Regions from separate parts of the Homo sapiens genome. Here all the other regions are linked to region 1. The links come from fine-mapping of genetic effects on gene expression. A gene starts in region 1. Each other region holds a variant in brackets. All regions are shown on one strand. Distances are between the middles of the regions. Region 1 holds the start of FAM53B (family with sequence similarity 53 member B). Region 2 overlaps FAM53B (family with sequence similarity 53 member B). Region 3 overlaps FAM53B (family with sequence similarity 53 member B). Region 4 overlaps FAM53B (family with sequence similarity 53 member B).

Region 1 (2,679 bases):
CATTCTAATCATGCAGCAGAACTCAGTGGAGCGAGCTGTAGTGTGAAAGGAGATGTCAGTTCATGCTTTTCTGAAAAGAATGGGTCCGGTGTGATGATATTCTGAAATATTTCAGCAATAGCCATGAAATATAATAGTTTCCCAAGCACACAAAGCTCAAGAAGTTAATTGTTCATTTATGTTTGATACTGGGATTGAAACATTGGATTAAAACCAATTAAATGTTCCTAGAAGCAACAGAAAAAGTTTCCTTATTTATGAATAGAACCATTCAAATGGCGCAGACACAATCCATGTAAAGTAATGAGGTGTTTTGTTTTTTTGGCAAAGGAGAACACAAAACAGGCATAGGGAGTTTTAAAAAAACTTCTCTTTAAAAATCGCTTTTTGGATACAAGGTCAATAAAATAACATACACCAGTAGGAAGGAGTAATGGGAAATCTAGGGCTTCACAAGGAAAACAATCCCCCTCCCCCAGGTGAGCAGCACAATGAAAATACTCTGCTTATTCTATCAGGGTTACATTCCTGAACTTAAGTCAACATCCTAAGTTACAGAACTAAACATGCTCTGCCTCTGCTTAGCAACCACAAATCCTTCCTTCGCCAGTTGCATGTATTTTGGATGTGGCTTCTGAAGTACACAGTCACAGCGCCCCGAGTTAGGAAATTTGCGCTTTATTTTCCCAAAGTGTGACAACACTTTAAGGTCCCCCCTCCCCGACCCCACCCGCCCGCTGTCCTGCACGCCACTGAAGTGATCGTTTCTTTTGAACCTCGGCATCTAACAACCCGGAAGCTGGACGCCTGAAGCCTATGCGGCCCAGCGTTTTCATCCCGGCTCGTGCTGGGGGCGGGGAGAGAAGCCCGTAGGGCCTCTGGCGCGGGGCCCGGGCAGCCGCGGTGGCGCGGCCCAGGCCCGGGGCCACTTCCCGCGTCCCGGGGCCTCGCAGGCGCGAGCGCGGCGAGCGGCGCGCGGCTGAGCCCGCAGGACGCCCTCTAGCCCCGCCGGCGGCGCGCCGCGAGTCCCTCACTCCCCGCCCATCGGCGGCTGCGCGCACTGCACACTCGCCTGCCGCCGCCGCCGCACGCCGCCTGCCTCCTGCACGCCGCCGCCGCGCCTAGCGCCCGGGCCCGCGACACCGCCCGCTAAGCGCCGGGCCGAGTTCACGCAGCCGCGGTCTGGCGGCTCCGCGGCGGCGGCGGGTGCGGGCGGCCTGGCCGGTGCCGGTTAAAGGGACGAGTTGCAAACACTTCAGGAAGTGACAAGTCGATTTCCTCCTCCCCGGGAGTCGCTCGTACAAAGCGCTCGGCGCCGGCAGGCGAGCGTGCGCGCGGCGGACGCGCGGCGGGCACCCCGGACGACTTGGCGAGCGCTGGCGGTGACGGCGCGGGGTCCGCGCCCGGAGCGCCCCGCCGCGCACAGTAAGCGACCCGGGGCCGGGCGGCGGCGGCGGTGGCCGGGGGGCTGGCCCCGAGCGAGGTCCGGGCCGTGTGCGTCCCGGCCGCTGGCTGGAGGGAGCCCGGCTCGCGTGCGCAATGGGCTTGCCTTTTTTTTTTCTTTTTTCCTAATGTTGCTGGTTTCCTTTTTTTCTGCCTTGTTTCGCCTTTGGGTTGGGTCGGGCGGTTTCTCCGGGCGCTCGGTCTCGCCCCTGATGCAGGCGTGAGACTTGTCAGAGCACAGGCATGGGGAAGAACAAGCCTGGCTGCGGCGGAAAAGTCTGCGCTCCCCAGGCCAGGGCGGGCGGGCGCGGGGACTGCTGCGCCCGGGGGTGTCCTCTCCGCGTCTCAACTTGAGCCCTGACTAGCCGCTGCGGAGGAGGCGCGGAGTCTCGGGAGCCGGGCGGCCCCATTCGCCCCGAAGTTCCCGCATCGTTTGCAGACAACTCTTTTGTTCGCGGAAGTTTGCACCCGCCACCCCCGGGGTGCGGGAGCGAGGCGGCGGGCTCCGCTGCTGCTGGACTGTCCGGGGCGGTCAGGATGGGGGTGAGGGGGCATTCTGTCCCGGGCGGGGGAAGCCCGCGGGGAGGCCACCGCTGGGGCTTGCGGAGTGGGGGCGTCCGCGCCGGCGTGGCTTTTGCACATGGCGAGAAGGGCCGTCCGGCACAGGCACACTGGTCGAGTCACATTTTTGCTAGTCTTGGATTTTGCAAGCCCGTGGGAGTCAGGTTCCCCGCTCAGGGTTTCTCTTGGGGCAGAGACGAAAGAAACGAGGACACCCAGAATCCGGGGAGGGTTTGCGGTTTGTGTTGTCCCAAGTGTGTTCTCGCTCCCCCCGCCCCCCCACCTTGTCCCCCAGCCCCCAGCTCTCCACCCCCATTTTCGGACTTGGGGAACAATGCTTGTAGTACGGGCCGGGGCGCCGCAGCAGCGACGAACCGCGCGGACAGGTTTGCCCGGGTCCCTCGCGTTCGGACGCCCCCTGAAGCCGAGCTCCTTCCATCTGACCGCCCGGGCTCATTAACACGTACTGTACTTAGGACGATGGTGAACAAAGAAAAGCTCTTTGCAGCGTTTGATGAATGGGATTCTGCCTCCTATAGGCCACACTCCGAGTCTTCCATACGGTACAATCTCCGGACTCGGTGGTGTTAGGAAAGTGGCCCCCGGAATGGCTTGCATTCCGGGTCTGGGATCCTGGGGTGGGCATTTGTGCCGTCGCCTTCGCCGCCGCGCTCG
Region 2 (2,679 bases), 120 kb after region 1:
TGCGAGCAGGTGGGCAGATGAGGGCCCTATGCGCACTCAGGGGTGAAGGGCGTCCGCTGGCCACTCTGCAGGGGCCCCTGCAGGATTCCAGGCACCTCCCGTTTGTCCTTGAGGACTGCTGGCTGTAACCAGGGCACATCACCCACCTCAAGACAAGCCCACGCCCTTGTCAGCTTAGGGGGAGCCCAGTCCTGAGGGCTGCATCTCTGTTGTAGGCCCAGCCACCGGCACAAAGCTGGATTCATGCTCCCTGCCCCTACCCCACCCTGGCTCCTCACCCTGGGGCATCCGAGGAGCCTAGCCCCCTGAGGGTTTGCTCTCCTCTCAAGGTTTGTAGCTCCTCTCCGGCTGCCTTGCAGACACCACCACATGGGCTCTGCTCTATGGGAATCTGGCTTTTAGCGAATGTGGCGTCTTCTGCAAACAATAGCAATTGGGCTGGCTTAGGAGCAAGTGGCTCATTTTCCCATAAGGCTAAAAATAACTGGTGCGCTCCCTTGTGTTGGCTGACACGCGCGTTCAAAGCACTTTTGTAGTCACTTTGCTTTTGCTCGTCTTCATGGACGAGTGAACGCCTCGCTTCTGCAGGTTGAGTCCAGATGCTTCTCACCTTCTTTCTCCTCAAGAAAGATGCTTTTTGGGAAACGTTGTTTAAATCTTATTTTTTTACTACATCAAAAGGATGGTGGTTCAAGTTCCCAATATGTGGGTGGCACTTCTTAAAAATCAGCTTTAAGGAGCTGGCAGAAAGCCCCCAGCCCCACAGCCCTGAGAGATGGTGTTGCTAGCTCAGGTGGCTGACACATGGGGTATGCCGGGCACTGGGCAGGTCCCAGAGCCGGGGAACCAGCTCACCTCTGGTTGCTGTAGCTCCTGCCGGAGGCATGTCTACTTGTGATCCCGGACAGCCGAACCCAAGAGCTGGTGGCTCTGAGCAGACAGAGACATCTTGGCCTGTCCCTGCCTGGGGGTCATGGAGACCATGTCTTCTTAGAGCAAATGTGGAGGCGGCCAGGGCAGTTGTTGGGTGAATGTGGAGAGCACATGGCCATGTCTTGCCCCCGGAGTACCACTGGGCGTGGGGGGTCCTGGCACCACATGCCCGGTGTGGCCGAGGGCACACAGCCTCTATAGCAGGCCTTCCTGTGGAAGGCAGAGGCAGTGAGGGAGGTGGACGGTGCCAGCTGAGGCTGAGGCATGCAGCAGCCCCCAGCTACCTTTGCTTAGGGCTGGGGTGGGAGGCACATGGTGACAGGTATATGTCGTGGGACTGGGGTGTGGGTGACCTGCCCTCAAACCTTGCCTGCCACCTCCCCATTCAGGCCTGGTGGCAGGAAGGGACAAGCTGTGGAGCTGGCTGAGTCACAGCCACCTCCCCACCTCCCCGCAAGCTGGTCCCATCGACCAGCAAGCCCAGCCCCAGGGCGCTTAGG[G/C]AGAAATGACCCAGCCTCCTCAGACCCCGCCTGCCTGTCCTGTGCCCACCACGCAGCAGTCAGGGGAGAAAATGGTGGCTATCCCTTCTGCTTAGAGAAAGAAATGGCCTTTAGCTGGTTTCATGTTTGTGTTTTGACTGGAGGGAGTAGACCCTATCTATAAGGTGCCACCCCATCATCCAAGCTGCCACACTGCCCGGAGCAGCCTGTTCCTGCACTCCACCCTGCTGGCCCCAGGACTTCTGATCTCAGTCCTCTGGGAGGGAGGTTCGCCTAGGAGGTGCCCCCCACATTGGTGTCCCCATGGGCAGCAGGCAGACAGCTCACCCCCACCAGCATGATGGCCCCAGCTGGGGGCAGTGGCAGGAGCCTTACTTTTGTCACAGCCTTGCCCACAAACCCTGCCTCTGAGGGGAGACTGAGGAAGGGCAGAGCCAGAAGCAAGCCGTGCCAGGCCATCTGCCTGCTCATGGGGTCCTAAAGCGCGGGCTAAGCCTGCAGGAAAGCCGGGGCGGTGGGGGGGGCTTAGTGCCACATGCACCCCACTCATTCCAAAGCCACCAAACTGCCAGGGGCTGCCGTCCACCCGTGGGGCCCAGGGGCTGGGGCCACAGCCTTGCCATTTTCGTTGCCATACCCTCTTGCCTTACTCGCGGTGGAGGCCGGATTTGCACGGGCAGACGTGCACCTGGGCCCGTGGGGAGCTTGTTCTGACCAGACGTACAGATTTTCATTCTCAGAAAGCCTTACTTTTCAACCAAATTTTTGTAGCCAGTTTTGTGAATTTGTACACTGAAAGAAAATTTAAATAAAGGGGAAGTCCACATTAAAAAGAAAACAAAACAAACCCTAACTAACTTCCAAATGGGTCTCCTGGTGCGGGGGCGTGAGTGGCCGTGCCCTGGGTGTGCTGCCTGTCTGAGCAAGCTTCCCTAGCTGTGGAACCCCGGGCCCCCTGCTGCGGGCTCTGCCTTGGTGTCATGCCTGCTGCACCCCCGTTTCCACTGACGTGCCGTCTGTGGCTATGGGGGTGGTCACTGGAATGACGGTCACTCCAGACGTCAGCCGGCAGGGATGCAGCAGGCTGGCCGCGCACCGGGGCTCGGGCACCCTCTGGCCCCACACTGGCAATGATGCCACACCTTGCCATGTCCACGCTGTTGGTCAAACCCCTCTGTCATGCCTCTTTAAAGAGAAAAGAAGAGAAAGATTTTTTTTTTTTTTAATGGCAGACCGAAGTGGAGAT
Region 3 (2,679 bases), 49 kb after region 1:
CCTGGAAGCTGTCCTCCTAGTCCTTCCAGCCAGGGTCTGAGTCCTCCAGGTGAGACACTCAAAGCACTTTCTGGACACAAGTTCAAAAAGAGCAGCCCCGGGACTCTTCTGTGTGTTTTAACTATTTTGGTCCCCTACGGTGCCTGAGTGAAGGGACAGGCACTGGTGTGTGGTTTACAACTCCAACATTGAGAATTTCTGTCTGATGATTAAAGTAATTCATGTTGATTTTTTTCATTCAGAAAATGCACAATAGTGTAAAGTATGCAATAAAAATCTCTCGTAGCCCCAATGCCCAGGGAGAGTTACTGTTGATATTTTTGTGTATGTTTATGTTCTTAGCATTTTTTATATAGCCCATTCCACGATGAACATATAATTATGTAAAACTATATTTGTTTGCTTTTTTCACTTGGAGTAGTTACCATCATCTTCCCACAGCATTAAAATTGTTCATTCCATGCATTTTAATGGTCTACAGTACCGCATTGGGTGGTAAATGTATCAGAATGTCTTTAGTGATGTAACTACATCTAGGCTGTTGGGTCAAGAGGCTGTTTTATTTGCTGTTGTGATGAACAGTGGCTAGGTAAGTGCCTAATTCTTTGTCTGCCTTTGTGATGATTTGCTAGGATAGTTTCCAGGAGTGGAATAGACAGGCTGGAGGGCAGGGACATTTTTAAGGCTCTTGATTCATTTTGCTGACATGCCTTCCAGAGAAGATTGCCTTGATCTTCTGTTTCTGTGCAAGTGTGAATTACTGTTTTTTATAGGCGGTAAAAAAGATGACCATTGATTACTTGATGCTTCAGATGATTGGGCATTGTTTGACCTCTCAGTGTCTCTCTGTGGCTCTCCTTGCCCACCTTTGGGGACGTCTTGCCGGATGAGTTTCTGTAACGTCTGCGTGGACTCAGAAACCACTCTCAGATGATAGATGATGATGACTGTGGGCTTTCAGATTCAAAGGTTACTTTGGTCAGACCTCAGAGTCTCCCTTGCCTTTCCTTCTCGGTCCTCCCTCCATGTGCGGTGTTTTGTTTTTCTTCTTCAGATACAGTTGCCATAGATGAGGTGATGTGTCAGATTGAGCACTGTGCCAGGCTCCTTACATGCTGGGCCCCGCTGGCTCTGCCAGTGGCATCATTCACATACGGGAGAACTGAGGTCTAGTGAGGTGGCCCTCTGCAAGGTCCCTCAGTAAGCGGAGTTGGACTCAGGTGGGTGACGAAGGGAGACTGTTTTCTTCTCAACCACCTGCCATGGCTCTGGGACACCTGGCGGTGCTCTTGATGCTGCCACTGAAGAAGATGGAGACAGGGAGATCAGCTGGCCCTGGTTTTCCATGTGACATACTTGGGAGGCCCGTCCCCACAGGATTGAATACCTCCCCGGTGGTTTACAGCTTTCAGCAAACCCTCAGGGCCCCAGACACATAGCTCAGAAGCCTGCCTCCTCGCCTGCTTCCTGGGACAACCTCACCTTTGCGCTTCCTTCCTGCGTCATGCTGGGAAAGAGAGAGGCCCCGGCATGCCCAGCCCCTCAACCCTGCCTAGGCTTTAGCTGTCAACCGGGCCAGACCAGTAAACTGGGTTGTGGAGATGTTGGTCTTTATTTCAA[G/T]GATTTCTAGTCTTTGCACTGTGTAAGTTATAATAAGGTGGAAGTCTGGTGGGTTTGTGATGACAGAGAGAGTCGCCCTTGTAGGGCCAGGTCTTGAGGCCCAGAGACCAAGGCAGAGGCCCCGGAGAAGGGAGGTGTGTGGGAAAAAGTCCAGATGGCCCAGGAGAGTCTATCGGAGGCTGCAGAGCCCAGCAACCTGCTTTCTACCGGGGAGGCCATGGTTTCCAGGAGGGACTACGCTGTGTCTGCAGACTCCTGTTTACAGAGTGGCTCTTTAGGAAGTGCTGGCTGGGTCCCAATGCCTCCGTCCCAGGCTCTTCTCCTCTTCAGCAGGGTCCTGTCTTCCTTCTGCTCTGTGGGACAGTGCCAGGGCACTGCCAGGCAGCAGAGGGAGAAGCGGGGAGCCGTTGTACTGGTGGGAGGTCTGTGGAGTCCCCTTGTTCTCCTCTGCTGCTCTCTCTCCATGGGTCTCATCTTTCTGTTGGTCGGCCCCTCCCTAATTCAGGAAAACCCTGACCTGCATGGCTGTGCATCACTGACGTGTTTCACTGACTGCAGTTTGTTTTCATTTTCAGTGGCTTGCTGTCATAGATATGACTTGAGCACCTGCTGTGTGTCAGGCACCTGGTGAGGGATAGAGTGAATCAGACCCTGCCCCTTCTCTCAGGGAGCTTTCTGTCTGGTGGAGGAGAAAGATCAACGAACAGTGAATTCTGCACTGCTTAGGCCAACTCCCGTGAGATGTGGAGGCCCTTGAGCTATGGGGATACCACCCCATCTTCCCGGCTAGGTTTCCTCAGTTTGCAAGTTGTGAGGATTTAAGGAGACGGCCACACACTAGCACACATCCTCCCTCCCACCTCTATCCCTTTCCTGCGCTTGCTGGAGCGGAGCGGGTGTCAGCAGTCAGGAGCCTTACCCCGTGCACTCTGTCTAGTGGAAGCTCAGGTTACCTCTCCAGTCCTCCGTGTGCTCCATGAACTGGGAGTGCACTCCACCCAGGCAGCGAGATTTCATCTGAGGTGTGCCTGCTTTTCTTTTTTTTTTTTTTTTGAGACA
Region 4 (2,679 bases), 92 kb after region 1:
CTGGCATCAACCCTGAACTGGGCAGCAGGTGTTCCAGACCTGGCCACACATGGACTCCCCCATCTGTCCAGCACCTTGGAGGTCCCAAAGTGCGTTCTTGCATCCTGTTCATTTCTTCCTCACAGGATCCCTCTGAGATAGGCTCTGCGTGGGCCATGTGGACAAGGAAAGCGAGGCTGAGACTGGGAGGGTCCTGGCCAAGGTTACCCTGAGAAGATAGTGGTTAAGAGAGGGCTTTGACCCAAGTCTGGCTCATGAGTCTGACCCCACTGTGCCAGCGAGACCCAGCTGGGCCTCTTTGCCCTACAGATGAGTGCCGTCAGCTGGGCCAGTGTCCTGGCAGGGGCCCGCAGCCCATCTTGTTCTTGCAAGACCTCTTGAAAGTGTAACACGGAGAGTGAGGCCTGGCCATCCGGGACCCTGGCAGTGCCTGGGTATTTTCAGCTCTGTGAGATGCCCCTGTTGAGTCCATCAGGGTCCCCACGCCAGAGCCCTTCTGGCAAGCCCCTGCTTTACTCCAACCCTCCTGGCATAAAGGAAGCTGGTTGTCCCAGCCTCAGGCACAGCTCTTCTGGAAATCTGGAGGACATTACCTCCTGGCTGGCCTTGAGCTTGGGGCTGCATCTGAGAAACATATCCAAGCCTATGGGCTTCTCCCCATTCACTGAGCAGGGATAAAAATCCTATCAAAATAGTTTTTGAAGAGCAAGGCCCTACCAGTGTCATTGGGGCACATGAGGTGAGGCAGGCAGCCCTCAAGGCTCTGTTTAACTTAGTTATCTGCAGAGCCCTCCGGGACCTGGTTGAAAAATGCTGTCCTGGCCTCAAGGGCACGTGGGTCCTACCTCTTAGGGCCTGGCAGCACAGTCTCCTCCTGGCCAAGGCATCTGGGTGCACAAGGGAAGGTAGGGCCATTTTGTCTACAGCTCCTTTGATTGGTCGAGCACACACCAACACAGGGCGTCGTCTGCCTGTGTGGGCTGGAGAGGCAAGAGGCTCCTCTGCCCTGGGGACTAGCCTGAGGGTTCCAGCTAGTAGATTTTTGCCTTTCTGTGGTTTGCTCGGCCGTTCCCTGGGTACTCTTGCTACCTTCCATATTGAAGGAAGTGGACCCCGAACTGGAGCCATATAGGACAGATGGGGAATGCTGCTGCTTCAGGCCCTCCACCACAAGGCTTCCTTGTGTCATTAAAATACATACTGTCCTTTCCCACTACCTGTGGGACTGGTGTTTGTGATAGCCCTGGAATGTGAGCACCAGGAAACACTGAATGTCACTCACCTCCTTGGACCCCTTGCCTCTGCAGGTGAAGCCACTGAGGCCAGAGGAGGGAAGTGGCTGGCCATGGTCACCCAGGGTTATCACCGTGGGTGACAGGCTGGGACCAGATGTGAGTGCAGCTGTGGGCCGGGCCCCTTCTTCTCTCTAAGGCTGTGGCCACAGCCTCCTCTGACACCTGACAACAGCATGAACTCAGCCCATCCCGGTGTTGCCCAGGGCCTCAGTTTCCTGATCTGTGAATTGGGCATGAGTTCCTTGCTCA[G/A]TTCACCCCTGGGCACGGCTGGATGTGAACGTATTGTGCACATGGTAAGACCCTGGCTAGTCCTAAGCCCTGGTATTATGGTTGACACCTACTGAGTAGAAACAGTTGGGAATTGATAGCTTTTCCCTCTGCGGGTTTTCATAACCATTGCTGGACACCGGCAGGGACAAACTTGGGAAAGTCTTGGGACCCAAGTGGAAGAGAGGACTATAAATGAAAAACTAGAGGGGATAATTCCAGCCTCAAAAGCATGCTCGTGCTTATCACACTTTGATGTTGGCTTTGAAATTCTCCAGGTATGCCCTTTGGAAAGGGACTCCTGGAGGGCAGGGGCCTCGCTTCCTGGCCCCTGAGTTCACATTGCTCAGGAGAGCACCTGGTGGACCACAGATGCTTCACAGATGGGGGACAAATAAAGGAACCAGCAAGCAAAGGCTGTCTGGGTTGAGAACCGCCCTCAGTCGCAGTTGTCCTGACGCTGGGGCTGGCGTGAACGTTCCAGGCCCAGTCATAGTAGACAGCAGGGGTGGCGTGTCCCCGCCATGTGCCAGTGCCCAGTCACTGCCGACCTGAGGCAGGGGCTAGACATCTGTGGGGCTCTGCTGACCTTGACCCTCCAGAGCAGGCAGGCCCCAGGGTCGGAAGTCAGCTGACAGTCTCCACAGTGCTCCCCTGAGGAGGAAATGAGGAGGCCGCTGGGCCTCACTGTCTCGGAGGTGGGGGTGGCAGGGGAGAGCAGCAGGAGGAGTGGGGTGCATAGTCCAGGTCCCTGGTGCCGTGTGTGGGATTGTGATTCCGTCCAGCGGCTGGGCTCCCTGCTACAGTGCCTGCAGTTCAGCAGTGAGGGGCCACAGCATGCCTTTATACTGCCTCCCCTGGCAGCCCTCTTAGCTTCATCCCTGCCTGTCCTGTGTAGCTGGGAGGACAGAGCAGAGCAGGCTCAGGAGGATGCCAGGCAGCACCCTCTGCTCAGCCGCACCCCTCCAGCCTCCTTCTGCACCTTTGGGAAGGTGCAGAGGGAAATGGAACACGAGGGAACTGAGTTAGGGCCCTGGGGCCTCAGCTCCTGGAAAAGGCTAGCAGCAAGGCCACAACAGAGCGTCTGAGGGCAAGGTGGTGGCCACCTGGCTCTGTC

The links. PIP is the estimated chance that this variant, and not a neighbour inherited with it, causes the effect.
Region 2: its variant is fine-mapped to the expression of FAM53B in whole blood (TOPMed, PIP above 0.99). The same link has a PIP of 0.9 or more in putamen.
Region 3: its variant is fine-mapped to the expression of FAM53B in whole blood (TOPMed, PIP 0.95).
Region 4: its variant is fine-mapped to the expression of FAM53B in whole blood (TOPMed, PIP above 0.99).

Annotation. Positions count from the first base shown.
Region 1 is chr10:124,742,759-124,745,437 of GRCh38, reverse strand. It overlaps FAM53B (family with sequence similarity 53 member B), which reads left to right and starts at 1,060. Exons shown (of 5, transcript NM_014661.4): 1 at 1,060-1,425. RefSeq lists silencers at 822-961, 1,092-1,141, 1,162-1,271, 1,322-1,481, 1,802-2,011 and 1 more.
Region 2 is chr10:124,619,634-124,622,312 of GRCh38, reverse strand. FAM53B (family with sequence similarity 53 member B) reads left to right here. Exons shown (of 5, transcript NM_014661.4): 5 at 1-2,679. Among named protein-coding and RNA genes, the nearest start is that of FAM53B-AS1, 83 kb to the left of the region's middle. RefSeq lists enhancers at 122-622, 1,975-2,104. The variant G/C (reference allele first, on the strand shown) is at 1,434.
Region 3 is chr10:124,693,461-124,696,139 of GRCh38, reverse strand. All of the region lies in intron 3 of FAM53B (family with sequence similarity 53 member B), which reads left to right. Among named protein-coding and RNA genes, the nearest start is that of FAM53B-AS1, 9.2 kb to the left of the region's middle. The variant G/T (reference allele first, on the strand shown) is at 1,621.
Region 4 is chr10:124,651,189-124,653,867 of GRCh38, reverse strand. All of the region lies in intron 4 of FAM53B (family with sequence similarity 53 member B), which reads left to right. Among named protein-coding and RNA genes, the nearest start is that of FAM53B-AS1, 52 kb to the left of the region's middle. RefSeq lists an enhancer at 2,565-2,674. The variant G/A (reference allele first, on the strand shown) is at 1,545.